4 linked regions of the Homo sapiens genome follow. The main gene of each other region encodes a partner of the protein of the gene in region 4 in a complex. Each region holds a gene or a part of one and is shown on either strand. Other genes may lie near its edges. The genes, in order: NCAPD2, SMC4, NCAPG and NCAPH. A codon is read from its position in the direction of its gene.

Region 1 (7,654 bases), on a different chromosome or scaffold from region 4:
TCAAGTTTAGGGAGGCTCCTAGGTAATAAGCTTGATCAGTTAAACCAGTCTGGGTAATTCTATTTCTCTTACCTGTACAGTCCTGTGCCCTGTAACATTTTGGTAAACAATAGACCACATATGCGACAGTGGTGTCATAAAAATATAATACAGCTGAAAAATTCCCATCGTCTAGTGACTTCTTGGTGACCTTGACCCTGTGTAGGCCTAGGCTAATGTGTGTAGGTGTTTTAGTTTTTAACAAAAAAGTCTGGCCGAGCATGGTGCCTCATGCCTACAATCCCAGCACTTTGGTACATGTCTGTGGTCCCAGCTACTTGGGAGGCTGAGGTGGGAGGACTGCTTGAGCCTGGTAGATTGAGGCTGCAGTGAGCTGTGATCAGGCCACTGCATTCCAGCCTGCAATCCCAGCACTTTGGGAGGCTGAGGCGGGAAGACTGCTTGAGCCCAGAAGTTCGAGACCAGCCTGGGCAACATAGGGAGACACTGTTTCTACAGAAAATTTAAAAATTAGCCAGGTATGGTGGTGCATGTCTGTGATCCCAGCTGCTTGGGAGGCTGAGGTGAGAGGATTGCTTGAGTCTGGGAAGTTGAGGCTGCAGTGAGCCGTGATCATGCCACTGGACTCCAGCCTGGGCAAGAGAGTCTTTACCTTGTCTTTCAAAATAAAATAAAGAATAAAAAGTACAAAAAGAAAATTCCTTTTTCCACTTCTGGACATTAGAGGAAGAAGCTGCCATCTAGACTGGTGCAGTGGCTCACGCCTATAATCCTAACACTTTGGGAGGCCAAGGTGGGTGGATCATGTGAGGTCAGGAGTTCAAGACCAGCCTGGCCAACATGGTGAAATCCCGTCTCTACTAAAAATACAAAAATTAGCCAGGTGGTAGTGGCGTGCACCTGTAATCCTAGCTACTTGGGAGGCTGAAGCAGGAGAATCGCTTGAGCCTGGGGAGGCAGAGGTTGTGGTGAGCCGATATCGCATCACTGCACTCCAGTCTGGGCAACAGAGTGAGACCCTGTCTCAAAAAAAAAAAAAAAAGAAAAACAAAAAGAAGTTGCAATCTAGCAACCATGAAAGAAAAGCCAAGAGGAGACAAGCTAGGACCATATTGTCGAGCTGCTGCATTAACCAACCCTTCTTCTTGTAGGTGATAACAAAGGAATTGGTTATTATCTCTATATTTACAGATGACGAAACCAAGGCACTGAGACAATTAAGTAACTTGTCTAAGGTCAGAGTGGTAGAACCAGGATTCAAATCCAGGCAGCCTGGCTCCAGTCTTTAATCTCTATACCTCTCCAAAGCAAGCTAACTGCTACAAGACCGCTCCCAACAAGTACAAGGACATTATGAAGTCTTTCTGGTAATGCAAAAGGTGCTTTTGATCATTTACAGGTTTCAGTAGGTGACTGCACTGTACATATATTGCTCAGTGTTGCAGTGGTACATATATATTATGGGTTTTTGTCCCCATAATTGCACATCCAAAAAGACTCCAAAAAGGTATTACCAAAAACAGGTCGAGTTAAGTCCGAGACATTCTGAAAAAGCGATCCACTCCTATAACTCTTAAATCCACCAGGACTTAATTTTGACACACAGTAAGGGGTAAAGATGGAAAATAACTTTTCCCCAAAGAGTAATCACATACACCAAGACTGTTTTTGACTAATCCAGAAAAGGAAGTTAATGAATGTACTCTTTGGGTCATGCATCCCATGCAATTTTAGGATAAAACAGCAAAATAGGAAAAACATGTTTCTTGCTCTTATGATGCTTCCTGGTGTAGTGGAACAGAAATGACAATGTAGCAATTCCATGTGAGATGGTCCTTTGAAAGAGCTAGGTACAGTGACAGCTATGGACTCTTACCTCTAAGCTGTGGTGGAAGATGTTTGATGGACAGTACCTCTTGCACAACATACTGATTCACCCCTCCACTTTTCAACAACTCCTCTGGGGATAATGGCAGATGGAACTCATACATTTGGGGAGCCATTCTACTCCTACAGGCTCACAGGGCTAGAAACCAAACAGTGAAAAAGTCAGGGTCTATATTCAAGACCTGTCTTCGTATCTGGTTCTATTACTTTCCCATCCCCAACATATATAATGGCTTTTAGTTTTATAGCAAGCTAGTAACATCATCTGGTTTTGTTAGTTCCCCACCCCCAACATATATAATGGTTTTTAGTTTTATAGCAAGCTAGTAACATTATCTTACGGGATCTGAGATTGACCCTGGACTAGAAACTAATTCTAGTAGTGACTTTGGCACTTGGTCTTGACACTTAAACCTCTGGGCTTTATCTGTAAAAACAGGGTTACTAAACTCTGATTACTTCACAAAGTTGCTCTGATGATCAAACAAATCAAGCAGTACGAAGGTGTTTAAAGAACTATAAAGTGGCATATTAATGTGCAAAGTACTATTATTTCCATTTTTATGTGCAAAGCTCCTTAAGTATAGAGAGAATGGTCTGATCTCGTCTGAGGCCAAAACAGTGCCCCAGCATGGGCTAGTGGGCTTCCTGCACCAGAATGGTAAGAGCATTAACAATGATGATTTATTTATCCTGTGCCAAGTCTGTTAGGCTGTTTGCATGTATCATATCTGATCTAAGTATCCTAACCTCAATCCCATGAGGTGCATAATAATACAAATGAGTTTACAGAGCGGAAATTGAAGTAAGAAAGTTAAGCGATTTGCTTAACATCTTCCGTTGCGGATCTGTTAAGCGATTTGCTTAACATCTTCCGTTGCGGATCTGTTAAGCGATTTGCTTAACAACTTCCGTTGCGGATCTGTCAGACTTACAGTTTCTCACACATCGCGCCCCAGGGATATACTTACTAGGCCTATTGTATTTTGCCCAAGACTGGGTCACACTGCCATGTACTCGACTTTCCTACTCTTTTACGACCTGCAACACCACATCTTACCTGGGGATCTCACCCGCGGCTCTGATTCCGGCAGTCAGGCTGAAATGAAAAGGAAAAAACACGCGTGCACAACACGCACCAATTAGCAAGGCAGTTTTCAAGTCGGCGGAGAATCCGGCCAATCCCCGGCAGGCAGAGGCAAAGGGCCGCCTCTGAGTCTGGCAACGCGCGGGCAAAGCCACAAATACCGAGTTCAAATCTCAACGGCTGCAGGACGGCCAATCGCGACGCCCGCCGGAGCGGCCGGCCAATCACAGCGCCGCCCGGGGGCGGGCCAAGGCTCCGGCTCCGGCCCCCGCTCCCACCCCCGGCCCGCCTGCGAATCCCTCCTTGGCCGCAAGGTCCCCCTTTGCCCAGTCGGCGGGGAGGAGGCCGTATTTCTGCTGGCCAGAGACGTCGCGTCCCTGGCTGGGCATTCAGTCACCCCCAGGAAAGGAGGCAAGTCCACGCTGGGAGTTAGAAGGCATCGCCTCTAATCCAGGTTTCGCCATCTCCTCTGCTAAGTGACGTCCAGCAAGTCACTTCACTTTCAGGACCTCAAATCTCCTCCCCAGTAGTAAAATAGGGGTAATAAAAACAGCTACAGCGGAAGACTGTTGTGAGGCACAGAGAAAGGGCTTGGTCATTGGAAGCGGGTTCCAGGTTCTCAACCTTCATTTCCTTCACGGTTGAAGGACGCCAAAGAAAGCGGAAAGGGTGAATTTTCTTGAAATCTCAGTTTTGGGGAATCTTAGCGACGAGTCGCGGACCTCAGCTTGTCCGGCGCTCCAAAACTTCCGGCAGGCGGACCGGAAGCACTGAGGCGGGAAGGGTGGTAGAGGCCCCTCCTGCCGGAACCCGGGGGGCGGGGCTCGTGGCTGTTGCGGATGGGGCGTAGGTGGGCGGTGCGCCCACAGCTGCCTGGGTAAGGCCCAAGATGGCTGTCTTCGCCTTAGTACTCGTGTGAAGTTGGCGGGGACGGTTCCTGTCATCTTCTTGGGCTTATTTGGTGTGCTGTTGAAGGGGGGAGACTAGAGAAATGGCAGGGAACCTCTTATCCGGGGCAGGTAGGCGCCTGTGGGACTGGGTGCCTCTGGCGTGCAGAAGCTTCTCTCTTGGTAAGTGGCTGATGTAGGCACCCCGATAACTGCTTCGTAGTATAATAGGCGGCTCAGATTAATTCCCTCCCTTCCCCATCCCCAGGTGTGCCTAGATTGATCGGTATAAGGCTCACTCTCCCGCCCCCCAAAGTGGTTGATCGTTGGAACGAGAAAAGGGCCATGTTCGGAGTGTATGACAACATCGGGATCCTGGGTAAGACTTGACCTTCGACGTGGTACACAATTTCAGAATGGCAATTAGGCTGTAACGACTATCTTTTCCTCCTGTGTAGAGAGTGGTACTGTGCTCAATAGTAAGAGCAAACACTTATGTAGCTGTTTACATTGTGTTTGGCACTGTTCTGAGTCCCCTCGTATAATTTTTACTTCATAAGTAAAAATAAACAGTTTTTCCAAAGTTAATAAATGGCAGCATCAGAATTTTAACCCCAAGCAGTCTGGCTCCAGAGTCTGTGCTATTGTTCTGTACTGTAATGTTCCTTGTCTATAGGTGCTGCTCAGCAAGATGCAACCGTGGGTTGAAAGCTTAGCTGGTGTAGGATGAGTTCTCTTGTCTTGGATCTAATGTGTTCTCTCACATTACACAGGAAACTTTGAAAAGCACCCCAAAGAACTGATCAGGGGGCCCATATGGCTTCGAGGTTGGAAAGGGAATGAATTGCAACGTTGTATCCGAAAGAGGAAAATGGTTGGAAGTAGAATGTTCGCTGATGACCTGCACAACCTTAATAAACGCATCCGCTATCTCTACAAACACTTTAACCGACATGGGAAGTTTCGATAGAAGAGAAAGCTGAGAACTTCGGAAAAGGCTCATCTGTCACCCTGGAGAAGGGAAACTGTACTTTTCCCTGTGAGGAAACGGCTTTGTATTTTCTCTGTAATAAAATGGGGCTTCTTTGGAATTTGATAGCCACATACTTTTGTTTTCCTCTAGATGCTGCCTCTACTCATGTAGACTATGAAGTCTTGACTCATCCTAGATCTTAGGATCTTAGGTTTGGGCTTCACACCACTTGCCTTTTACAGTCTAGCTATACCTAATTCCTTTAAAAAGAAAAGTTGGTGAGAATGTTATTGGCGCTTTTTGACATAATGCTGTTATGTTAATAGTGTTTCTAAAGAGCCTTCCACACTGAAATGAAATATAAGAGAAAAATGGAGTCATACTTCTGTACTACTCTCATAAAATATTTATTAGGCATATTCTCTGAGTAGGAACTATAGGAAAAACAAAAAAGTGTGAGGTGTCCTTTCCATTTAAATATGAAACATTAAGTACCATATGAATGGTAGAGATGGCGGATACTAAGCCTGACTGGTCATCAGTTTTCTGGGTGTTTTAACATTTCAAAAGCCTAGTCCTAACCCCTAAAGATTGATCAGTAGAGCTGAGTTGAGTCTAGGGCATCTATGTGTTTTGTTCTTTTTTAATAATAATTTTTAAGAATTACAGCTGGGCAGAATGGTGCCCACATGTAATCCCAGCATTTTGGGAGGCTGAGGTGGGAGGATTGCTTGGAGACAGGAATTTGAGACTGGTCTGGGCGACATGGTGAAACTCCGTCTCTACTAAAAATAAAGTGGCTGGGTGCGGTGGCTCCTGCCTGTAATCCCAGCACCTTGGGAGGCGGAGGGGGGCGGACCACGAGCTCAGGAGATCGAGACTATCCTGGCTAACACAGCCCTGTCTCTACTGAAAATACAAAAACAAACAAACAAAAAAATTAGCCAGGAGTGGTGGCGGACACCTGTAGTCCCAGCTACTCAGGTGTCTGAGGCAGGAGAATCACTTGAACCTGGGAGGTGGAGCTTGCAGTGAGCCGAGATCGTGCCACTGCACTCCAGCCTGAGCAACAGAGCAAGACTCTGTCTCAAAAAAAAAAAAAAAACAACTTAGCTGGGCATGGTTCTGCATGCCTGTAGTTCCAGCTACTCATGGTTCTGCGTGCCTGCAGTCCCAGCTACACAAGAGGCTGAGGTGGGAAGATCACCTGAGCCCAGGAGTTTGAGGCTGCAGTGAGCTGAGATCATGCCACTGCATTCCAGCCTGAGCAACTGGGGTGAGACTGTCTCAAAAAAAAAAAAAAAAAAAAAGTGAAGTTAGGGCTGGGTGCAGTGGCTCACACCTGTAAGCCCAACACTTTGGGAGGCCAAGGCATGAGGATTGCTTGAAGCCAGGAGTTCAAGACCAGCCTGGGCAACATAGCAAGACCCCATCTCTATATTTTAAAAAACAAAAACTCCATAAAAGTGAAGTTAGATTAATAAATACTTGTTGCGGGGCATGGTGGTTGGAGCACACTTATAATCCCAGCTACTCTGCAGGCTGAGGTGGGAGGATCCTTTGAAACCAGGAGTTGGAGGCCAGCCTTAGGAACATAGCAAGACCCCATCTTCAATAAAAATAAAAAGCACTTGTTAAATTACAAGTGGGTTTTGGATAAATGGATTGATGGGTATATATGAAAACATGATCCTGGGTCTTACGGAAATGTTTAGGAGAGTCAGTTTTCAGAGGGGTGGCTGGAAGGAGCTATGCATAAGAATGGAGAAGTTGATGTGAAATGTGAGTGGCTGTATACTTTACATGATTTGGTGGTGCTAGAGTGGAGAAAATAAAATATTTGGGACTCTGCTAAGTGCAAGGTGCCCTGAAGAAGATATCTACATATCCTGGTAGAGTATCTGATTGTTAGGGAAGAGGAAATTAATAGGTCAATAGGCATTTATAGAATATTTCCTGATTCAAAGATACAAAAGGTTTTGTTTTCAAGGACAGAACAATCTTGTTTGTGGTATGAAACAGTATATAACGTTTTCTTTGAATAAATATTGAATTATTATGTGCAAAGATATTTGGAGGAACAAAAATCACCAAGGTAGGGTTGGTTCCTACCTCTAAGTAGTCTTCATTCTACTTAAAAGATGTCCGGTGGCTCACACCTGTAATCCCAGCACTTTGGAAGGCCTAGGTGGGCGGATCACGAGGTCAGGAGATCAAGACCATCCTGGCCAACATGGTGAAACCTCGTCTGTACTAAAAATACAAAAAAATTAGCCAGGTATAGTGGTGTGTGCCTGTAATCCCAGCTACTCGGGAGGCTGAGGCAGGAGAATCGCTTGAATCCGGGAGACAGAGAGGTTGCAGTGAGCTGAGATTGCACCATGCACTTCAGCCTGGGCAACAGAGGGAGACTCTGTCTTTAAAAAAAGAAAAAAAAAAAAAAAAAGACGTCTGAAGGATGTAAAGTTACAAGATGGTGGACCAATGTGATACTCTGCAGAATGTGCAAATGGTCCACATTTTTTAGATTACATCATGACAGAGAACAGAATTAACATAGCCCTGATGAAAGACCATGACTGTATACTGTTGTTCATCCCCTCCGTGGTGGACTGCTTCTGACCAACATGCTTTAGAAAAGAATGTTGGTTGGGCATGCTGGCTCAGGCCTGTAATCCCAGCACTTTGGGGGGCCAAGGTGGGCGGATCACCTGAGGTCAGGAGTTCGAGACCAGCCTGACCAACATGGAGAAACCCTGACTACTAAAAATACAAAATTAGCTGGGCCTGGTGGCACATGCCTGTAATCCCACCTACTCA
Region 2 (7,000 bases), on a different chromosome or scaffold from region 4:
AATACAGTACCTTGATTATTATATATGCCACTCCTAAGCGTGTTGAATCATCATATTTTGTTGCCACCTGTAAAACCTGGAGCCACACTAAGCGCAGGTTAATGTCTCTTTTGTTTTTGCTTCTATAGCTCTTGTGTAATAGTTAAAAGCTGTGGCTCTTGTTTCAGTTCTTGGTTCAAATCCTAGGTCAATCACTTACTGTCTCTGTTCTTGTGCCGGTTGTCATATCTCCAAGTCATCTTCCTTAAAATGAGAAAGAATATATCTACTTTGTGAAAATAAAGAATAAATATATCTATATAACGTACTGAGAAAGAAAATAAATGTTAGCTATAATTTTAGCATTATATTAATAAAACGAGAGCATGAAGTTGTCACATTGATATGTATTATCTACCCCAACAAGAGTAAGCATAAAATTATCTTTGTTTGTATGTACCACAGCATTTTTGACAGTGCTAAGCATGTTAAATACCTATGTTAATGGATAATGGTAATTGACTGCATTAAAAAGTCATGGTAGAGTCTGCTTTGGCATATCAACATGTTCTAATGTCAAACTATAAAACTTAACAGGTTAGAATACCTGTGTGATGAAGTGTCACTTAATAGAGTCTGCTTTGGAATATGGACATGTTCTAATGTCAGATTATAAAACTTTACAGGTTAGAATACCTGTGTGATAAAGTGTCAATGGATAATGCAGTAGCTTTCATGATGGGATACTTCATAGTTAGTGGATTTTCACTGTTTGCTTATTTAATATATATTGAGTACTCATGTGCCCTGCACCCCATGTTAATGACAAAGCTAGGCCTCAAATGTCTTTATTCCTCAGCGTAATGATCGATCTCACAAAGCTCTTGTGAAATCAGTTGGGAAAAGACTATGTACAGTGAATATTGACAACTAGGCAAAAACTGAATCTAGTCCACTTGTGAGAATTTCTTATTTCTATATACTGTGCTTATAGAATCTCCTTTCTTAAATCGAATATAAAATGTATGGTTTCATTTCAGTGTAGGTTTGAAAGTAAATATCTGTCCAGATTTAATGAACTCATATTTTAACAGAGTCGAGAGAAAGAACTTATGGGTTTCAGCAAATCGGTAAATGAAGCACGTTCAAAGATGGATGTAGCCCAGTCAGAACTTGATATCTATCTCAGTCGTCATAATACTGCAGTGTCTCAATTAACTAAGGCTAAGGAAGCTCTAATTGCAGCTTCTGAGACTCTCAAAGAAAGGAAAGCTGCAATCAGAGATATAGAAGGAAAACTCCCTCAAACTGAACAAGAATTAAAGGAGGTAAATCTTTGCTTCTCTGTTGCATCAGAACATCATTCGTCCACTTCAGCTTTATACATTTTTGTTTTTAATCTCCGCGTCAGAGGTGACTAGTGATAAATTTTCTTCATTTTGTATAATCTCAAAAGAATGAGGTCAGCATTTCAGTATTCCATATGTGAACTGAGACTATCAAGAAACTATATTATCCCCAGAAGCACCATATAGTAAGTAAATCACCACCACCACCCCACTGTAGAAATAATTTAAACAAAAGAAAGTTTGTGTTTCTTTAAATCTTAAGTATAGACAATTTAAAGATAAATAAAAAACAAGTGTATATGTATTTATATAATGAATATACAAACAACTATCTTAATGTGTTTTGGGTTTTGAATTTATGGATGTAGTTTCTTTGCTTGCATTCCAAAATGTTATAAACTAACTAAGATGTATAGCTTATCGGTGCCTGTCCCCCATCCTTGAGTGAATTAGATGTCTAAGGAATTTCGTAAACTTTAATCTCCAAAGATCTCCAAAACCTCAGTAGGCAAGGTGGCAATAAAAAAAAAATCTGTTTGAAGTGTAATTATACTGAAAATAAATATGAGTCTTTTTCATTTTAGTTAATGCATGCTATTTGGTCATCAGGGAATTTCATGACCAGGTAGAATTTAAATGTAAATTAAGTTAGATCCAGTGACTGCTTCTGTCTTCCTGGGATTCGGTTTCTTTTGGGATGAATTATGTCAGTAACTTGGTTTAAACTTTATGCCAGTACAGTAAGTAATAGACATAATTTAAATCTAGTGGATGGAGGAATATACCAGTTAGAAAAGATGGCTGCTGAGAAGTTGGAGATTGAGAAACAGAGGTTGTGTTTATGTGTGCATGTTTGTGGTTCCTTTCTTGTTGGGAGCCTGGCATTTTTGTATAGCAATAGGACTATCCAGTCATCTTTCGTTTCAGAGGTGTGCTTTTTCTCCAGTACCCCCCAGCCCCGTTCAGCTAAAATAAAGCACAGCATAACCGTAGTCCTGCCCAGTCATTTTCTGGGTCAGCTTTTCATTAGGGCAGAGCTGAAGAATTAGGGCACACTTATGTATAACTATGTAGTATCAAACTGGGATTTCCACAGCCCCAGCTATACTTCTCTATCAGGATGAACTGTTTGCTCCTGAAAAAAATATTACACCTAATGTTTTCTTTTATTGACCCAAGTAATTTATGCCCCTTTTAAACCCATCCATATTTTCCACAACCAAACCAGCAATTGCCATACAGGTGCTCAGTTTTGGTTCAAATTTTTATTGTTGGTCTTTCTTTCTTTATTGTTATTAAAGCATTACAACTAATTCAGTGCTATGACTGGTCATATTTAGAAGTTAATGCTTCTGGATTTCATTTTATTTTCACTTTTAGAAAGAAAAAGAACTTCAAAAACTTACACAAGAAGAAACAAACTTTAAAAGTTTGGTTCATGATCTCTTTCAAAAAGTTGAAGAAGCAAAGAGCTCATTAGCAATGAATCGAAGTAGGGGGAAAGTCCTTGATGCAATAATTCAAGAAAAAAAATCTGGCAGGATTCCAGGAATATATGGAAGATTGGTAAAGTAGATTTTTGGGGGGCATGGCTTTACTTTTTTTTTTTAAGAAAGTGTAACTTATTTTTTTGCCTTGACAACCATATTTCAAGTGTCACTGTATATAAAATAAGATTCATTTTGTTTGTTTTAAGGCACATTTATTTTTAAACATTTTGCCCTTACAGTTTCTTGTTTACTTAGCTTTAGATAAATACAATTATTTCATACATATCAAGAAAAATACTAGTAATGTCACACAAACTTAAAACCATTTTATCCTTTTTTTTAAAAGAGAGACTTTAGCCAGGCACAATGGTGTGTGCCTGTAGTCCCAGCTGTTGGAGAGGCAGAGGCAGAAGGATCACTTGAGCCTAGGAGTTCAAGTCCATCCTGGGCAATATAGCAAGACTGTTTTTTAAAAAATGAAAATTAAAAAAAATTTTTTTATATATTTGGGGTTTCACACCATTTTACTTAGGTTTGGGCTAGCATTTAAGGATATAACAAGGGATAATCTAAAAATCCAAGGCTAGCAATAGTGAGGACCATTACTGCTTCTTAGCTTCGAGGGAAGGGAGTTGTGGTCCAGAGGAGATGGGGAAAATGGATACCTTAACCCCACCTATTTCCTGCCCTCCAGTCTTAGCTGAAACCTCAAATTGGCTGAAGGTGGAGAGTCAAAGGAGCCAGTTGATGCAGTCCTTAAGTCAGCCTTTCGGAGAAGGGAACAAATTGATGTAAAAATTACCCAACATGATTGCTTCTGCATCTTGTATCGGGACTTCCACCTTATTTTCTTAAAGATAAACAGTTTGATCCTATTCATTTGCTCTCAAAGAAAGCCCAAACCAGTGAATACTGCTAGATAGTTGTGTAATAGATAAACAGATAAATGTGTTTCATCAGGATTTACATAATTTTAGATGCTTTTCAATAATTCAAAGTTTTCTGAGTTTTGCTTATAGTTCATTTAGGTTTTAAGCTTCATGTTGTTTTCATAAAATGAAAACAGTTCTTTCATTTTGTGCTCATTAGAAATTCAAGCTGCATATTCATAAACTTATACATATTTTGTATTTTGTTGTGTACCCTTTTGTTCTCTTTAAAACCATGTCTACATAAAGTTTTTCAATTAAAAGAAGTTTTTAAAACTTGATGAATGAAATGGTCCTGTGCTTTTCTGCCTAACTCTTTTTTCACCCCACTCTTCATTATTAGGGGGACTTAGGAGCCATTGATGAAAAATACGACGTGGCTATATCATCCTGTTGTCATGCACTGGACTACATTGTTGTTGATTCTATTGATATAGCCCAAGAATGTGTAAACTTCCTTAAAAGACAAAATATTGGAGTTGCAACCTTTATAGGTTTAGATAAGGTGGGTATTCGTAATAACCTACCTATAATTGGAATTTTTTTTTTTTGAGACGTAGTCTCGCTCTGTCACCCAGGCTGGAGTGCAGTGGCATGATCTTGGCTCACTGCAAGCTCCGCCTCCCGGGTTCACACCATTCTCCTGCCTCAGCCTCCCGAGTATCTGGTACTACAGGTGCCCGCCACCACACCCAGCTAATTTTTTTGTATTTTCAGTAGAGAGGGGTTTCACTGTGTTAGCCAGGATGGTCTGGATCTCCTGACCTTGTGATCCGCCCACCTCGGCCTCCCAGAGTGCTGGGATTACAGGCGTGAGCCACCACACCCAGCCCTATAATTGAATTTTTAAGTGCTAAGTGTGTTTTTCTTTTTGGATTCAGGCTTTTTCTTAATGGTTACTCAGTGAACACCTGATGGGTTTTGACGATTATTTTATGTTCTGGGGTTATATGATTATAAAAAATTGTTTGACATTTGCAGTGCCTCCACTAAAGGAATGTACATTCCAGAGTTAAAAGGAAAACCTTTATTGAGATAATTTACCTACAATAAAATTTATCATTTTAGGCCAGGTGCGGTGGCTCATGCCTGTAATCCCAGCACTTTGGGAGGCCAAGGCGGGCGGATCACGAGGTCAGGAGTTTGAGACCAGCCTGGCCAACATGGCGAAATCCCATCTCTACTAAAAATACAAAAATTAGCTAGGCATGGTAGCAGGCGCCTGTAATCTCAGCTACTCGGGAGGCTGAAGCAGGAGAATTGCCTAAACCTGGGAGGTGGAGGTTGCAGTGAACCTAGATTGCGCCACTGCACTCCAGTCTGGGTGACAGAGTGAGACTCAAAAACAACAAACAAAACAATCATTTTAAAGTATGTAATTTGGTGGGTATTAGTATATTCACAGTGTTGTTCACCCATGACCACTATCTAATTCCAAGATATTTTTATCACTCCCAGAAAGAAACCCCATAGACAGTAACAGTCGCTCCCTATACCCCTTCACCCCCTCCGTAACACTAACTACTTTTTTGTTTCTGTAGATTTATCTACATATAAATGGAATCATACAATATATGGCCTTTTTATACAGCTACATTTACTTAGCAGGTTTTCAGGTTCATCTATGTTGTAGCATGTATCAGTACTTCATTCCCTTTTATTGCCAAATGGTATTCTGTTACATCATTTTGTATAACCATTTGTCAGTTGATGGACATTTGTGTTTTCACTTTTTGTGCTTTGGCAATACTTGTGCTACGAACATTTGTGTACAAGTTTTTGAGTGAACATGTATTTTCAGTTCTCTTGGGTATATATATACCTAGGGTAGAACTGCTGGGTCATGTGGTAATTCTATGTTTAACTTTTTGAAGAACTGTCAAGATTGTTTCCACAGTGGCTGTACCATTTCCCACAAGCATGTGTAAGGGTTCCAGTTTCTTTACATCCTCGTTAACACTTGTTATGGTACATCTTTTTGATTATAGTCATCTTAGTGAATATGAAGTGGTATCTCATGGTTTTGATTAGGATTTTCCTGGTGATTTATGATAGTAAAAGTCCTTTCATGTCCTTGGCCATTTGTTATCTTCCTTGGAGAAATGTCTGTTTCAAATCCTTTGCCCATTTTTTAATTGGTTTCTCTTTGTTGAGTTGTAGGATTTCTCTATTCTGAATACAAGTCTCTTGTGAGATATGATTTACAGATATTTTACCCCATTCCTTGGATTGTATTTTCACTTTCTTGATGGTATCCTTTGAGGCACAATTTATCTTTTTTTTCCTTTGGTTGCTTGTGTTTTGGGTATCATACCCAAGAAACCACTGCCTAATCCAAGGTCACAGTGATTTGCCTCCTTTGTTTTCTTCTAAAAGTTCTATAGTTTTGGCTTTATATTTAGGTTTTAATCTATTTTGAGTTAATTTTATCACGTGATATAAAGTAGGGCTCAAACTACTCTTTCCATGTGGCTATCCAGTTATTCCAACACCATTTGTTGAAAAGATTCTTTACCCCATTGAATTTTCTTGGCATCCTTGTTGAAACCACCCAACCATTAATGTAAAGGTTTATTTCTGGGCTTTCAGTTTTATTACTTGTGCTGGTATAGGACACTGTCTTGATTATTGCAGCATTGTAATAAGTTTTAAAATCAGGAAGTCTGAGTCCTCTAATTTTGTTCTTTATCATATTGACTGTTCTGGGTCCCTATAATTTGTATATATGACTTTTAAGATCCAGATGGTCAATTACTGCCACAAAAAAAGGCGAGGAAGTAACTGGGATTTTGATACAGGTTGTATTGAATTTGTAGATCAGTTTAGATAGTATAGGCATCTTAACGGTATTAAATCTTTAGAACCACAAACATGAGATGTCTTCCGTTTAGGTCTAATTTTAGAACCTTTTGTGTATAATTCTTGTTTCTTTTGTTGAATTTATTCCTATGGGTTTTTTTTTGTTTTTTTTTTTGAGTTTTCTTTTTTGTTAACTGTTGTTTTTGTTTGTTTGTTTGTTTACTTTTAGATGGCTGTATGGGCGAAAAAGATGACCGAAATTCAAACTCCTGAAAATACTCCTCGTTTATTTGATTTAGTAAAAGTAAAAGATGAGAAAATTCGCCAAGCTTTTTATTTTGCTTTACGAGATACCTTAGTAGCTGACAACTTGGATCAAGCCACAAGAGTAGCATATCAAAAAGATAGAAGATGGAGAGTGGTAACTTTACAGGGACAAATCATAGAACAGTCA
Region 3 (7,447 bases), on a different chromosome or scaffold from region 4:
TTGACTATCAAATACCTATGTTTTACACAATATTATTATGGGTATCTTTTAACACCAAAAAAAATACCAACTACTATAGTGATAAATATACCAGTGATTATAAAACTGGTAATAGGGACAAAAAGGACAGAAGAGTGCCTAAAACATACCTAGGCATATATGGAAAAATGAAATACAACTACCTTTATGACCCCATAGGTAAGAAAAAGTTCCTTAAAAAAGAGATTAAAAAATACGAATCATAATGGCAGAGATTTATATTTTTGACATAAGAATTTCTGTTCAAAAAAAAGATACCCCAAAGGGAGTGAAACAATGATACCCCAATGAGCCACCTAAAACAGGAAGAGATCTACAATTCATATAACCCAAGGATTTCTTTTCAAAATATATAAAGAATGCAAATGAATTTTTTAAAATAGTATTTTAAATTAAAAACCCAATGAAAAAATGGGCAAAACACAGTAACAGGTATTATATAGAAATATAATTGGCTGCTAAATATATACATACAGCATGATTTACACAAAATGACAGGAAAACATTAAGATAGACATATGTGATTTATGCAAAAAAATTTTTTTTAATTTAAGCAAGAGACTAATTAACCCCAAACTGAGGATTTAATAGTTACTTCTGAGGGACAGGGATGCAACTGGGATAGGATGCAAGTACTGACTTTTTTTTTTAAGCTGGGTGGTTGCTACTTAGGTTTTTTTTGTTTAATCGGAATCATATATTAATTACCTATACTCTTCAAATGTATAGACCATAATAAAAAATTTCAAATACTGAGAATTTAACAAAATCAACAAATCTGAAAAAAGATTTAGGAAACTACACACACCATTAACCACTGGGCATTCATCATCCTTGGGATCCTGAAGTCGTGAAAGCGCCAGAACTGCCTGTATTCTCACATTTGGAATCTTATCTTTCAATCTAATAAGCATGGCTTTATTAATTTTATCAAACACATCATCATCAATCTGAGCATTTTCTGGCATACTTCCCAAAAGCTTGTTTATGAGCAGGCACACTCTAAATCTCACTGCATTGCTGTTTGCTTCATGAGACTAAAACAGAAACAAATCAAAATTTATTCATAGTCACATACCACTCCCAAATAATCAATATTATCTGAACTCTATACATTCGGAATGCAAGAAGTTACAACAACAATTCATTTCCTGAAGAGAACCTATAATGCTACCTTGGTCCATATGTATAGCAAATATATATATTTTATACAGTCTCAAAATGAACAGTCTGAAAGAAGTCTTTGCTAAGTTACATAGTCCTCTTTGTAGAGGCTTCTAAAATACAGAACTCATTTAAAATAAACAAAGGAGAACTGGTTTAAAGAGGTCATTAAAAATTTAATGCTGGAGTTAAAGTCCACTTTTTAATCATAATGATAATTCTAATATTTCCTATGAAAGGTAGACTCATTCAGGTTTTTTCAATCACTAGATATTTCATTGTCAAAAACATACAAACTCCCACGACTCTTTTAAAGTGGCAAAATTTTCTAAAATCCCTCCCCAAAGCTATCATTTTCATAGTACCTTTAAGAGAAAAGTAAACAAATAATTTAAAAGGCCACCATCTTCCTCTTCCTCATCATCTTCCATATCTGATTGGTGAAATGAGGTAACAAACTTTGCTGCAAATTCTATTACCCTCTCCACAGCTGGTTCACGTTTATAGACCACCATAACATATTTAAGGTAATGAATGAACTCCTCATGAAAAACTGTCTTATCATCCATCTGAAAGACAAAAGAAACCCTTCATAAACTGCACCGATAAAAATCCTTTATTCCCAACATCACCCTAAGACTGATGAAAGCACTAGCCATAATAATGCAGACAAATTAAAATATTTATTTAGTAAACTCTTAATTATCCAAACCAGCCAAAGGGCAATCAATTTGCATGAATTTCTCTCCAGGCTATAATGGGAGTACACAAGCTTGACTTTTGACAGTGAAAAGATTCCTTTGATATATTTTTTTCAATATCTTTGATTCTCAATAAGCCTTTAGTACCAGTACGTTACAAATACGCTTCTTCAACAACCCAAAATCAATACTGGCTTTTATATTTCTCATATTCAGGCCTTCCTATCACCAGCAGTTTCTTTATGAGATAACTTGCACATCCTATCTCATATCCTCAAAGCCCTGTGATGTTTACTCACAATTTTTCTTGGACCTCAAGATAATTCATCTTCCCCAAATTAATTGTTCTATTCTTCTCAAGGTTCCACTCAAAACAAACAAATAGTATGTACATAAATAAGAATGGCCAGGCCCTAAAAATAATTTGGTATTTGGTGATTGGATTCAACGTAACCGTAGGACAAGGGTAGAATCATTTGATGTTCGGCGGGGAGCGATGACCCCAGGGGCAACGACCACTGAACCCCCGCATTCAGGATCCACTCTGCGGTTCAATATTTGATGTCTGATCGCCTCGGTGGTCGTAAATGTTTCTCTCCACGTTCACGATCGGACTAAGGAATAACGGTCCACGCCGCCCAGAAGCTGGGGGTGTCGGCTCAGAAAAGCCAAGGCGGGGCCCGTGTGAACGACGCCCAGGCTTCGGAGGCTTTCTGGCCTGGGCCCAGGCGACCTCGGGTAAGTCCCTGACTTCTCCGAACCTCAGATCCCTATGAAGTGAGTCGCGAAGGTGAACAAGGCTGGAGTCACGGTGCGCCGAGCCCGAGGGCCACGGAGGGCCCCTGAGGGAGGGTGGGCCGGGGCGGGCGAGAGGCGGCGGCCGGGGCCGGGAGCGCTTACCGTGCGGTAGGTGCGGCTCAGCGCCACCACCAGCTTCGCCTGGTTCTGGTGCGGCTGCTGCGCCAGCCGAAAGGCCTCCTTAATCGACAGCAGCCTCCTTTCCGCTCCCATGGCTCTGGAACCCTGCCGGGACGAGTCCTGCCCGCGCTCGGCTACAGCCTGCCAGCCCGCCAACCCAGAGGCAGCGCTCTCCGAGTAGTCTTCTATGACAGCCCCAGGGAGTATTTACCGCTCGAACGTTCAAATAATTCCCGCGAGAGGGGGAAATCCCGCGAGACTGCCGTAAGCGCTTTGGGAGAAGAGAGCGGGAAGCGATGGGTCCACCCACCTCGCACCCCGCGCTTTGGGCGCATGCGTCTAGGTTCAACCTTGTCCAGCCGTTTTCACGGAGGGAAGTGGCGTTTCTAAGGGGGAGGGGCCTTGACTCGGCCGGAAGTAGCGTCGGCGCGGGAGCTGAGCGGAGTGGCCTTGCCACCGGAGGGGAAGGGCTGCTGGCGTTAGGCCTGGCTGGGTCGTGCGGCTGAGCGTGAGGCTAGAAAGAAAAAGCGATCCTCCAAGAGTGAGAACGGGAGATCTGCCGAGGATAACAACCTCCCTTGTGGCCGAAGGGCGGGGGATCCCCACACGAGGGCTCCGCTTCGAGAGACGGCGACAAAGGAAAGTTCGTAGCGCGTTCCGGAGGCCCGGCCACCTCTGAGAAGGGAGACGACGCTGCTGGGTCCGCTGAGCGGGGCGACCCGAGGTTAGTGGAGACGGATGCTGTCTTTTGAAGGCCTTAGTCCCTGCCCTGGTGAAGCCGACTGCGAGGTTCCACAGGGCGTGCAGGCAGTCCGGGGATCGTTGCGAAGGGGGGTGCGGGCTAACTTAGCTGCTGCCGTTTCTAGATGTGCAGCTGTGTAGGCCCTGTTTACAAGTGTGCATAAGGACAGTGTATTAAGGGAGAACTCAAGAGAATGGAAAGGTCTTTCGGGTAGTGGTTAAAATAAAGAAGAGTAGGAACTAGGTTTTTAAATTTTAAATGAAATTATATCAGACAGAACTTCTGTTGGATCTCAGGATGCACCATCCAAAAATAGGACTGTAGGAGACCAAAATATGCCACCCTACAATATACTTCTAGAGTATATTTTGAGCTGGTATTCTGATAAAATGCAGACACAGGAGTCGCTCTGAAAATCTGTCCTGTTGTAAAAGAAATTGACATCTACAGAGGAAATATACATCAGTAAAGGATCTGTATCAGAAAGAGGGCAGCTCTGCGATAATTTTTGTTACCTGGGAGATCTTATCTGCATACCAAGACAACTTTTATTCACCGTATATTTCCTCCCCTCACCTTTCCACAACTTTGTGGCCACCATCCCCCAGAAAGCCGCAAGCCCCCATTTCTTGAGTAGCGTAGGATGCTGTATAATATTCAATCATCTGACCATGGTGGGACTCCTCTGCGTATGTAATTAAGTACGGGTTTTTTTTCTTGTTAATGTCTATGTCAGGTTAATTTGTAACCCAGCCAAAGAACCTAGGAGGATGGAGGGAAGCCGTTTTTCCCTCTCCTACACCTCAGTAACCTACTGCCAGCTGAAGAAATAGAACATTACTAAAGCCACCTGTACATCTTTCTCCTTTTGAATTACCTGCCCTCCGAAGAAGTAATGGATTTTCTGAATTTACTGTTAACTTTTACCATGCAGCTTTCTATATCTTAATGACATATTTTAATATATTAATGACATGAATAAATCCCTGAATGAGGATATTGTACTATTTTGCATGTTTTAACCGTTAAATGAATAATTATATGTGCATCTGGCTTTTTTCAATCAATATTGCTGTGGTTCATATTGATATGTTCATAATAGTAACTTGCACTTAATTAACCTTTATTATGTGCCAGACACCATGCTAAGCACTTTACTTCGTTTACTGCTCACAAACCCTGTAGGATAACTTTGATCTTCTTTTAAGATGAGGAAACTACGGCACAGACAGGTTGCTATAGTACTCCATTGTATTAATATGCCATACCTTATCCATTCTCCTGCTTAATTCCTCAAACTTTGTAGATATTCAGCTGCTAGTTAAGAATGTGGTAACATTTGTGTTGCCCATAATTTTGCTTTGTGACGTTTCTAATATATATTTTTTTATTTTTATTTTGAGACAGAGTCTTGCTCTGTCGCCCAGGCTGGAGTGCAATGGCGCGATCTCGGCTCACTGCAACCTCTGCCTCCCGGGTTGAAGCGATTCTCCCGCCTCAGTCTCCCAAGTAGCTGGGTTACAGGCATGCACCACCACACCTGGCTAATCTTTTGTATTCTTAATAGAGACGGGGTTTCGCCATGTTGGCCAGGCTGGTCTCGAACTCCTGACCTCAGGTGATCCACCCGCCTTTGCCTCCCAAACTGTTGGGATTACAGGCGTGAGCCACCGCGCCCGGCTAGTATTTCTTTACTATATTCTATTTGGCTGTCTCACCAACAGAGACATCACACCATTTTGTCAGTTACAGAAGAATGAGACATCTGGCCGCCAGAGGTCAGCCTAACTATATTTCGGTTAGTTTTTTTTTTTGTTTTGTTTTGTTTTAATGGTTAAAGCCATGGGGGTATTGGTTCAGTATTTTTTGATATTATAATCTGAAAATATTTTTTCAAAGGTGCTAGATTAAATTTAAACAACATAGTATACTGCCTTAAAGCTTACATTTTTCCTGACTTTTGTACTGTGAAACAGAACAAAAACAATTATGGGAAAGTAAGAGCCTTTTTAAAAATTTTCTGAGTAACATAATAACTGAAGTATAGCCAATTAGTAATCTCACAGGTGCAATCTGGTTGAAGTGAAAATAGTAAAAATATTAGAGGACAGCACAATTAAAAGCCAACAGCTTCTCCTGTCTCAGTTAATAAAGACTTACGGTCCACGACAAAGAATGAATACTCTTTTTCAGATTGAACAAGGTAATAGTACTATAATCTAAACTTAGAAGTATTACATTGTTTCTTCTTAAAGTTATAAGCAGTTTCCTTTATATTGCTGTAGTAGCATCATATATGTTGATCCTGCCTTAAAAAAATTATCTCATTTGTCTTTGTCTAACATTACCAAATCACCAAGATATAACTTGGAACTGTTCTCTCCCTGGAGTAAAATAGAACATGCTTGTGGTAGTTACTTACTGCAGGCCTTTGCCATTCTCTGACTCTTTTATTTACTGAGCCACTCATATATGCCAGACACTGTGCTAGGAGTGTGTGAAAGCCAGAGAAATACTCATTAGAGGAAAATTGCTGACCTGAAGCCATACCATATGACCTTATTAGCACAACTCAGTGTATTCGATAATGAAAATGTTCACTGACTTTGATTTTGGAAATCCCCCCTACAGAGTAGCATAAACGAGACATTGATATTGTCTCTTTTCTCATTTAAAGCTATGCCTTTAAAGGCCACCCATGTTGCTGTATATACTTGGAATGTGTTTCCACATTTTACCAGTCCGCTTCTCCAGCGATAGGAACCTAGAATGCTTCTAATTCCTGTCATCACAGATGTAGCTTCAGGGTATATCTTCATACATGTTGTTCATACGGGAATTTCTTTGCTATCTATGCCCAAAAGTAGGATTGCTAGATCATGAGATGTGCAAATAGTTTGCCTAAGTAGTGCTGCCGGACTGTTCTTCCGAACAGTTACTCCACTCTGCAATCCCACCAGCAGTGCCAGTTCCAAAAAAGAACTCACTGACACTTGGTGTTATCCAGCTTTCTTATTCTACCAAACTGATAGCATAATGTGATCATATTGTTCATGCCTTGGGATTTTCTCTTCTATAATTTGGATATCTTTGTCCATTGCTCATTTCTTTATTGAAGTTGCTTTCTTAAAAATTGATTTAACTTTGTCCTTGGTATCTTTAGTTCAGTCCAGAAATGATTAATTGTGATGTGATTAAATTCATTTTTTGGTCTGGTGCTTTATGCTTTTTTGTTTAAGAAGTCTTTCCCTGGCCTCATTTCACAAAGATATTCTGTATTATATTTAACTAACTATATAGTTTTACCATCCCCATTTAGGTCTTTAATCCATCATGAATCCTCCCTTATACATGTCATTATATGTATATGTATTAAATGGTTTTACTTTTCATTTTTTTCTTAACCTTGTTCTTAATTTTTTCTTAATTCTTATTCCAATACAGTTTTACTTTTTTTCATATAATGAGCCAGTTGTACCAATAATATGTACTAAACATATCCATTCACCCTTAGTTTATGTGCCAACCTTATTTTATATTACATTCCCAAATTATATATAGCTCTGTTTCTAAGCTCTATTCTGCTCTATTGGACTATTGTCTGTTCTTATGCTAATCCTACCTTATTTTAATGTCTGTGACTTTAGTCATAGGACATACCTTGAAGAATAGGAACTCCCTTACTGTTTAAACAGTTCATTTGGCTATATGTGGAATTTTATTCTTTCTATATAAACTTTAAGGTTTGTTTATAGAGTTCCTTAAAAATTTGATTGGAATTGTATAAATTAATAGGGAGAAAGTTGATATCTTTATGATATTTGTTCCATCCAAGAGCATGGAATGTCTGTATTTTAAATTATCATCTATATTGTTTATTAGG
Region 4 (6,881 bases):
GAGGCTGAGGTGGGCAGATCACCTGAGGTTGGAAGTTCGAGACTAGCCTGACCAACATGGAGAAGCCTTGTCTCTACTAAAAATACAAAATTAGCTGGGCATGATGGTGCATGCCTGTAATCCCAGCTACTTGGGGGGGCTGAGGCAGGAGAATCACTTGAACCCAGGAGGCAGAGGCTGTGGTGAGCCGAGATGGCGCCATTACACTCCAACCTGGGCAACAAGAGTAAAATTCCGTCTCAAAAAAAAAAAAAAAAAGAAAAAAAAGGCATTTGCTTGGAGGCCAAAACGAACGCAAAGCCATTTCAACTATATGCCTACTAAGTCCCAGTGACTTGATGGTTTCTATCACAGACTACATCATTATATAAGCCAGCTGCAGGCTGGAAAGTCAGGGCAAATTTGAAGCCAAAAGATTGCTTGTTCAGGTAGCCAATGGATAACACTATTGTTTCTCACCTAAACTAAGGCAGTTTCCCATTTATTTGGGGGAAGTAGAATCTCCATGAAGAGTAAAATGGGGTGGGGAAGGAAGACGACACCAGCTCTGCTTTTCTGGCAGCCTAGGATTAGTGGAGGAACCTTAACTACTTTACTTTTGCACAAACAGAGGTATTGAGCTTTGTACACCACTGAGATCAGTGATAAATCATTCACTCTTCTTTATTTATTTATTATTATTATTTTTTTGAGATGGAGTCTTGCTCTGTTGCCCAGGCTGGAGTGCAGTAGCACAATCTCGGCTCACTGCAAGCTCCGCCTCCCAGGTTCATGCCATTCTCCTGCCTCAGCCTCCCGAGTAGCTGGGACTACAAGCACCCGCCACCATGCCAGGCAAATTTTTTTTTTTTTTTTGTATTTTTAGTAGAGACAGGGTTTCACTGTGTTAGCCAGGATGGTCTCGATCTCCTGACCTTGTGATCTGCCCACCTCGGCCTCCCGAAGTGCTGGGATTACAGGCTTGAGCCACCGCGCCCGGCCAAATCATTCACTCTTTTGGCACCCTTCATAGTCCTAAAAACAAAACAAAGATGGCATTCAGAGCAGGAGGTGAAAGACCTGCCCGCATAAGGCAGCCCTGGCCCAGAGAGACACTGGGCATGGAGCTGGCTTTGCCTTCCTGCACGTGAAGCTGGAAGCAGCTCAGGTGGCTCCATTATTCCCACAGAACAGCCTCAAGGCTCACCTAGTGGGTCACTTAGTAGCTTTCCTCCCCCAGGGCTTCCAAGCTGTTCTTCAGAGGCTCCTGATTCAGTGTATCACCTAACCCTTGCTACTCTTATGTACACATGGAATCCAGAGGATCACACTTGTCCCAGTGTCCTCCCTCAGATGCATTCAGCAGAGAGAACAAGTGAGGGAGATGACAGGGACCCCAGCATATACTGACCAAGTCCAGTGCGGGGATAGTGCCTTCCCCATTTTATAGACGGGGAAGAAAATGGGGCCCAGAGAGGTTAACATGCCCAACCCAGGATTTAAAATTGTCTTCCAGATGTACTCATTGAATACATATTTAAGTACTTGCTATGTCCAGGGCCAGCACCAGGCCATGGGAAAACCATAGTGAACAGATATGGCTTCATCCTCATGGAGCTGACGGTCTATGTAGGAGACAGACATGAAATAGTCACCCTAGTGCATGGAAAATTGCAGCTGTGACAAGTTCTCCTGAAGCCTCCAGTATGGAGAGTTGTGTGTATCAGGGAAGGTCTCCTTGAGGAACCTGAGGGGAGTAGAAACCTAACTGGAGCTACGGGGGTGAAGATGGGGATGAAGAGGATCCTAGCTAGAGGAGTGTGTGTGTGCAGAGGCCTGGGGGTAGGAGCAGGTGTGATGAGAGGAATCTGAAAAAAGGCCAGGGCAGCTGGAGGGCAGGGAGCAAGGGGAGCAAGGTCCCTGAGGAGGCTGGAGAGGCTGCAGGGGTGGGGAGGCTGGCAGGAAGACCCTTCCAGGACCTTGTAGGACGCTTAGAGGTTCCCAGGGTGGTGGAACCCCTGAAGTGTTATACTTCCGGGAGGAAGTGGTGGGGGACAAGTGGGAGTGACAGCTCAGATTTGGACTCCGCATACACTACTCAGGGCCTGAGGGGGGGCCAGAGCAGGCCAGTGAGAAGGTAATGTGGATGGAAGGAGAAAGGCAGGATTGGCAATTTTTAGGAGGTGAAAATAGCTTGCTTGATGATGGATTGTGTGGGGAGAGAAAGGGAGGGAATCCCCCAGGATGACTCCTGGGTGCTGATTTGGGTTCTTGGGTGGCTGATGGTATCATTTGCTGAGATAAACAGTGTCAACCTGTTTTCTCTAACCCACACAGCCTTACGCTGAAGATTTGAAGGTGGTCACTAGAAGAACAAGTTTATACGAACAACAGATAGGCTTAAAAAGTGGTTTTCAGCCAGGCGCAGTGGCTCATGCCTATAATCCTAACACTTTGAGAGGCCAAGGCGGGTGGATCACCTGAGGTCAGGAGTTCGAGACCAGCCTGACCAACATGGTGAAACCCCATCTCTACTAAAAATACAAAAATTAGCTGGGTGTGGTGGTGGGCGCCTGTAATCCCAGCTATTCAGGAGGCTGAGGCAGGAGAATCGCTTGAACTTGGGAGGTGGAGGTTGCAGTGAGCTGAGATCGTGCCATTGCACTCCAGCCTGGGCAACAAAGCAAGACTCTGTCTCAAAAAAAAAAAAAAAAAAAGTGGTTTTCAACAAAGGGTGGCACTTTTTGATTGCCAAAATGAGCGACAGCACTGATGGCATTTAGTGGGCAAATGATGTTACGGGGGCTTAAGAGCCCACAAAGAGGGCAAACATCCTATCATGCCAAGGATTGTTTCACCCTGAATGCCAACAGTGCCCTTGAAGAGAAACACTGTAAAAGATGCCAGATATGAGAGTTACAAGAAATTCTAGGATGTGCTGGGGATATTCCAGGGAATCACCCTGGCCTTTACTCCCATAATTCAATCCTTAGGGTTAGATGAAACTGAGGGGACAGATGGCATTTTATGCTTATTTCGCTTTTTCGACCTTTATTTATTTTTTGAAGGGTGGGGGGTGTTCACAGGAAGCTATTCACAAGAATCTGAATAAAACGATGGCCTTCATCTTACACTATATTAAATGTACATTTTGTACTATATTTAATGTATACATAGCATTTCTGCATCAGTTCTTCCCCACCTGGACCGCTCCTCATTCCCACGTAGGCTCCCGCTCCCCTCCGTCCCTCTTCCCGGAGGTTTTCAGCGTTTTGCTGCCCACACAGCACAGATCTCTAAGGGAAATAAACCTCGTTTTCTCGATCATCTGCCTCCCCATTATAAAGTAAATTCCACGGGCTGAGCGCGGTGGCTCACGCCTGTAATCCCAGCACTTCGGGAGGCCGAGGTGGGCGGATCACCTGAGGTCAGGAGTTCGAGACCAGCCTGGCCAACATGGTGAAACCCCGTCTCTACTAAAAACACAAAAATTGGCCAGGCGTGGTGGCAGGCGCCTGTAATCCCAGCTACTCGGGAGGCTGAGGCAGGAGAATCGCTTTAACCCAGGAGGCGGAGGTTGCAGTGAGCCAAGATCGCGCCACTGCACTCCAGTCTGGGGGACAAGAGCTAGACTTCGTCCCAAAAAAAAAAAAAAAAGAAAGTAAATTCCACGAAAGACGGGCCTTGCTCACCCTGCTCGACGCTGGGTTCCCAAGCCCAGTCCTGCACCTAGTCCTCGAAGGAGGGGGTTTTCATACTATTTCAGGGGGTCCACCGACCCCAAGAAGCCCAATCAGACGGGGTCCTCAACCCAAAACTCACTCTGACGCCGCCCGCGGAGGCCCGAGGTGGTCTGCGCAGGCGCGCTGCTGGCCCGGCCCGCCGGCGACGTCACGCGGCCGTTACGGCGCTCAGGCGTCTCGACGCGCGCGATTTAAAACCAGCTCAGGAGACGCCAAGGAAAGATGGGACCTCCCGGCCCAGGTGAGCCGGGCGGTCGGGAGGCGCGGCGGGAAGGGCCCCTAGCGAAGCAGTACTTCGGGCGGGCAGGGCTGGCGGGCTGGCCTGGGCGGGGAGAGAGGATATGCTCAGCTCGGGTCTTGGCCCTGCGGCTGACAGCAGAGGCCGGTGCGGGGGGAGGGGAGGGCCGGCGCGGGGCGGGCGGACCTTGTGCGCTCAGCCAATCAGAAAGCGGCTTCGGCCGGAGTCGGAGAGCGCGCGGGCCCTGCCTCACACTCCTCAGTTCCCGGGCGGGCGGTGGGGCGGCCTCCTCCTTGGGCTCCTAAAGCGTGCTCGGTGTCTCTCCATTAAAATGGTGGTTTTCCTGGAATAGACGTTATTTTCAGGGCTTTGGAAGCGATGTGGTTACCGTTGTATGCTTAGCATGCATGCATTTATTTTTGCATCTATTCAAAAGTACTGAGCTCTCCCGTTGGGCGAACAAAATTGATAATATCTCTATACTGTTGGAGTTGGGGAGACAGACAGTAAACAAAAGAAATAATTACACATGAGGCTGAGTGCTGTGATTGAGTATAGCAGAGTAGGGGTGGCTCCGCCAGGGGTTCAGGGAAGATCTTTAGGCAGATACTAGGGAACGTGTTTCAGGCAGAAGGAGCAAGTACAAAAATGAGGCAGGGAAGAGCCTGGCCTGGCCTAGGACCTGACCAGAACATTGTGACCAAGCTTAGTGAGGCCTGACACGTAGGCAGGGTCTGGAGGCCTTGGGTAAGAGATTTGGAAATTGAGTTACATTTTGGACATGGTATGTGTGACTTACGGGAGAGACTCAGGTGAAGGGATCTATAATCACTTAGGTGAGAATTTGGCTCTCAGGGGAGTTATATGGACCACTCAGGGAAGTGACCCATGGATTGAGAAATAAATTTGGATACCATTATCATATAGACCATTAGACCATAAAACCATGGGAACAGGTGAGAACACTAGGAAGGCCCTGCACATCTAGGACCAACGTTTAGAAGCTGGATAGAGAAGGATGAGCTGGAAAAACTCAAAAGACAGTGGTATAGGAAGAAGCCAAGAGTGTTTCAACAAGGAAGGGACTGTCAGCTGTTTCAAATGCTGCTGGATTCCAAGAGAAAGGCCAGAAAATGACCATAGGGTTTAGGCAACATGGAAGTTATAGATGATCACGAAAAGATAGTTCTCATGAAGTTGGAATAGGAACCAGACCAGAGTGGGTTGAAAAATGAGTGGGAAATGAGGAAGTAGACATAGGAAGTGTCTTTGAGCTCAGTAACCATCGGTTGAATGAATGGATGCATAATATCAAAGGCAAGGAGAGAAACCACGGAAAGAAGATTTGGAGAATTAAAGCATGCCTCTAATTCCAAGTTTAGTTTCTCTCTTAGACAAGGTTCTCCTTAAGTGCTTCCTATTTCTGTTAAGGTATCCTCTCCAAAGGTCCAGGTTCCTTCCTTAGCCTGTAGCCTACTGTGCTCACATCCAAATACTGTCCTCATAAGTCCTCTTGATTCAGTTTCTAAAAATGTCTCTTGCCTCCTCCCTTCCTATTTTTACTTTGTTGTTTTTTGTTTTTTGTTTTTTTTGAGACGGAGTCTCGCTCTATCGCCCAGGCTGGAGTGCAGTGGTGCAATCTCGGCCCACTGCAAGCTCCGCCTCCTGGGTTCACGCTATTCTCCTGCCTCAGCCTCCCGAGTAGCTGGGACTACAGGCTCCTGCCACCACGCCCAGCTAATTTTTTGTATTTTAGTAGGAACGGGGTTTCACCGTGTTAGTCAGGGTGGTCTCGATCTCCTGACCTTGTGATCTGCCCGCCTCAGCCTCCCAAAGTGCTGGGATTACAGGCATGAGCCACCGCGCCCGGCCTATTATTTTTTAGAGACAGGGTCTTGCTGTGTTGCCCAGGCTGGAGTGCGTGGCTATTGACAGGTGCTGTCCTAGCTCACGGCAGCCTTGCTGAGCGCAAGCAGGCTCAGCTTCCTGAGTAGCTGGAACCACAGATGCCTGGCAAAGTACCCCACTTCTCAATACCACCTATATCTTTCTAATTCACTCTCTGGTTCCCTGACTCCAACAACCCTTTTTTTTTTTCTGAGACAGAGTCTTGCTCTGTCCCCCAGGCTGGAGTGCAGTGGCTTGATCTTGGCTCACTGCAACCTCTGCCTCCCAGGCTCAAGCAATTCTCCTGCCTCAGCCTACCGAGTAGCTGGGATTACAGACATGCGCCACTACACCTTGCTAATTTTTGTATTTTTAGTAGAGACGGGATTTTGCCTTGTTGGCCAGGCTGGTCTCGAACTCCTGACCTCAAGTGATCCTCCCACCTTGGCCTCCAAAGTGCTAGGATTACAGGCATGAGCCCAGCCTTGTTTTTACTTCCTATTTTATTGAAAAAAAAAAAAAAAAAAAAAAGCAAACAAAAAGGAACATCCCCAAGTCTGCCATTGCACCTGCTCCCTGCCTGCATCTGTGCCAGTGCCTCTGTCTTTTCTCCTGTTACTGAGGATGGGCTTTCTGTGCTCTCTACAAAGGCAACCTCTTTGCCTGCTTGAGTACATTGTTCAGCAAATTTTACCTTTTATTTTGGATGGTCACTGTGATAGGCTGAATAACACTTGCCCTAAAGGTGTCCAGAACCTGTGAATATGTTATCTTACGTGGTGAAAGAGACTTTGCTCATGTGATTAAGTTAAGGCTGTTGAGAAGACTATCATGGATCATCTGGGTGGGCCCAGTTTAATCACAGTGGTCCTTGTAAGAGGAAGGTCGTCGGGGTAGAGTGAGAGCAGATGTGATGACAGAACAAGAGGTTAGAGTGATGGGGGGACAGTGAGCCAAGGAATGTAGGCAGCTCTGAAGCTGCAAAAGGCGAGGAACAGATCCTCCTCTCAAAGCCTCCAGAATGAATGTAACCC

The links.
Region 1: NCAPH (region 4) and NCAPD2 share a complex: the UniProt entries of both Homo sapiens proteins name them as parts of the condensin complex.
Region 2: NCAPH (region 4) and SMC4 share a complex: the UniProt entries of both Homo sapiens proteins name them as parts of the condensin complex.
Region 3: the proteins of NCAPH (region 4) and NCAPG are in contact, whole or in part, in a crystal structure (PDB 6IGX), measured with the Homo sapiens proteins. Residues at the interface, in NP_056156.2 of Homo sapiens: Glu471, Ile472, Asp473, Phe474, Glu475, Asp476, Asp477, Ile478, Phe480, Val482, Tyr483, Phe484, Arg485, Lys486, Thr487, Ala489, Ala490, Thr491, Ile492, Leu493, Gln501, Asn502, Trp503, Ala505, Thr506, Thr507, Leu508, Phe512, Tyr514, Val516; in NP_071741.2 of Homo sapiens: Lys11 (codon at 2,885), Phe14 (codon at 2,876), Arg15 (codon at 2,873), Gln18 (codon at 2,864), His50 (codon at 1,736), Tyr51 (codon at 1,733), Lys53 (codon at 1,727), Tyr54 (codon at 1,724), Val55 (codon at 1,721), Met56 (codon at 1,718), Val57 (codon at 1,715), Glu62 (codon at 1,700), Ala64 (codon at 1,694), Val65 (codon at 1,691), Val68 (codon at 1,682), Phe102 (codon at 1,580), Ser106 (codon at 1,076), Glu108 (codon at 1,070), Ala109 (codon at 1,067), Asn110 (codon at 1,064), Ser111 (codon at 1,061), Val114 (codon at 1,052), Arg115 (codon at 1,049), Ile149 (codon at 947), Arg150 (codon at 944), Lys152 (codon at 938), Asp153 (codon at 935), Lys154 (codon at 932), Arg159 (codon at 917), Glu188.

Annotation. Positions count from the first base shown.
Region 1 is NC_000012.12:6,489,448-6,497,101, reverse strand, and holds the start of NCAPD2 (condensin complex subunit 1), read right to left. Parts: upstream 3,001-7,654; 5' UTR 2,948-3,000; intron 2,027-2,947; 5' UTR 2,004-2,026; coding exon 1,877-2,003; intron 1-1,876. Other genes in the region: MRPL51 (large ribosomal subunit protein mL51), read left to right, coding at 3,966-4,044, 4,130-4,240, 4,635-4,831. UniProt on the Homo sapiens protein: Regulatory subunit of the condensin complex, a complex required for conversion of interphase chromatin into mitotic-like condense chromosomes.
Region 2 is NC_000003.12:160,416,650-160,423,649, forward strand, and holds part of SMC4 (structural maintenance of chromosomes protein 4), read left to right. Parts: intron 1-1,073; coding exon 1,074-1,307; intron 1,308-2,708; coding exon 2,709-2,894; intron 2,895-4,090; coding exon 4,091-4,252; intron 4,253-6,775; coding exon 6,776-7,000. UniProt on the Homo sapiens protein: Central component of the condensin complex, a complex required for conversion of interphase chromatin into mitotic-like condense chromosomes.
Region 3 is NC_000004.12:17,806,546-17,813,992, reverse strand, and holds the start of NCAPG (condensin complex subunit 3), read right to left. Parts: upstream 3,015-7,447; 5' UTR 2,916-3,014; coding exon 2,805-2,915; intron 1,773-2,804; coding exon 1,569-1,772; intron 1,077-1,568; coding exon 848-1,076; intron 1-847. UniProt on the Homo sapiens protein: Regulatory subunit of the condensin complex, a complex required for conversion of interphase chromatin into mitotic-like condense chromosomes.
Region 4 is NC_000002.12:96,331,886-96,338,766, forward strand, and holds the start of NCAPH (condensin complex subunit 2), read left to right. Parts: upstream 1-3,880; 5' UTR 3,881-3,944; coding exon 3,945-3,963; intron 3,964-6,881. UniProt on the Homo sapiens protein: Regulatory subunit of the condensin complex, a complex required for conversion of interphase chromatin into mitotic-like condense chromosomes.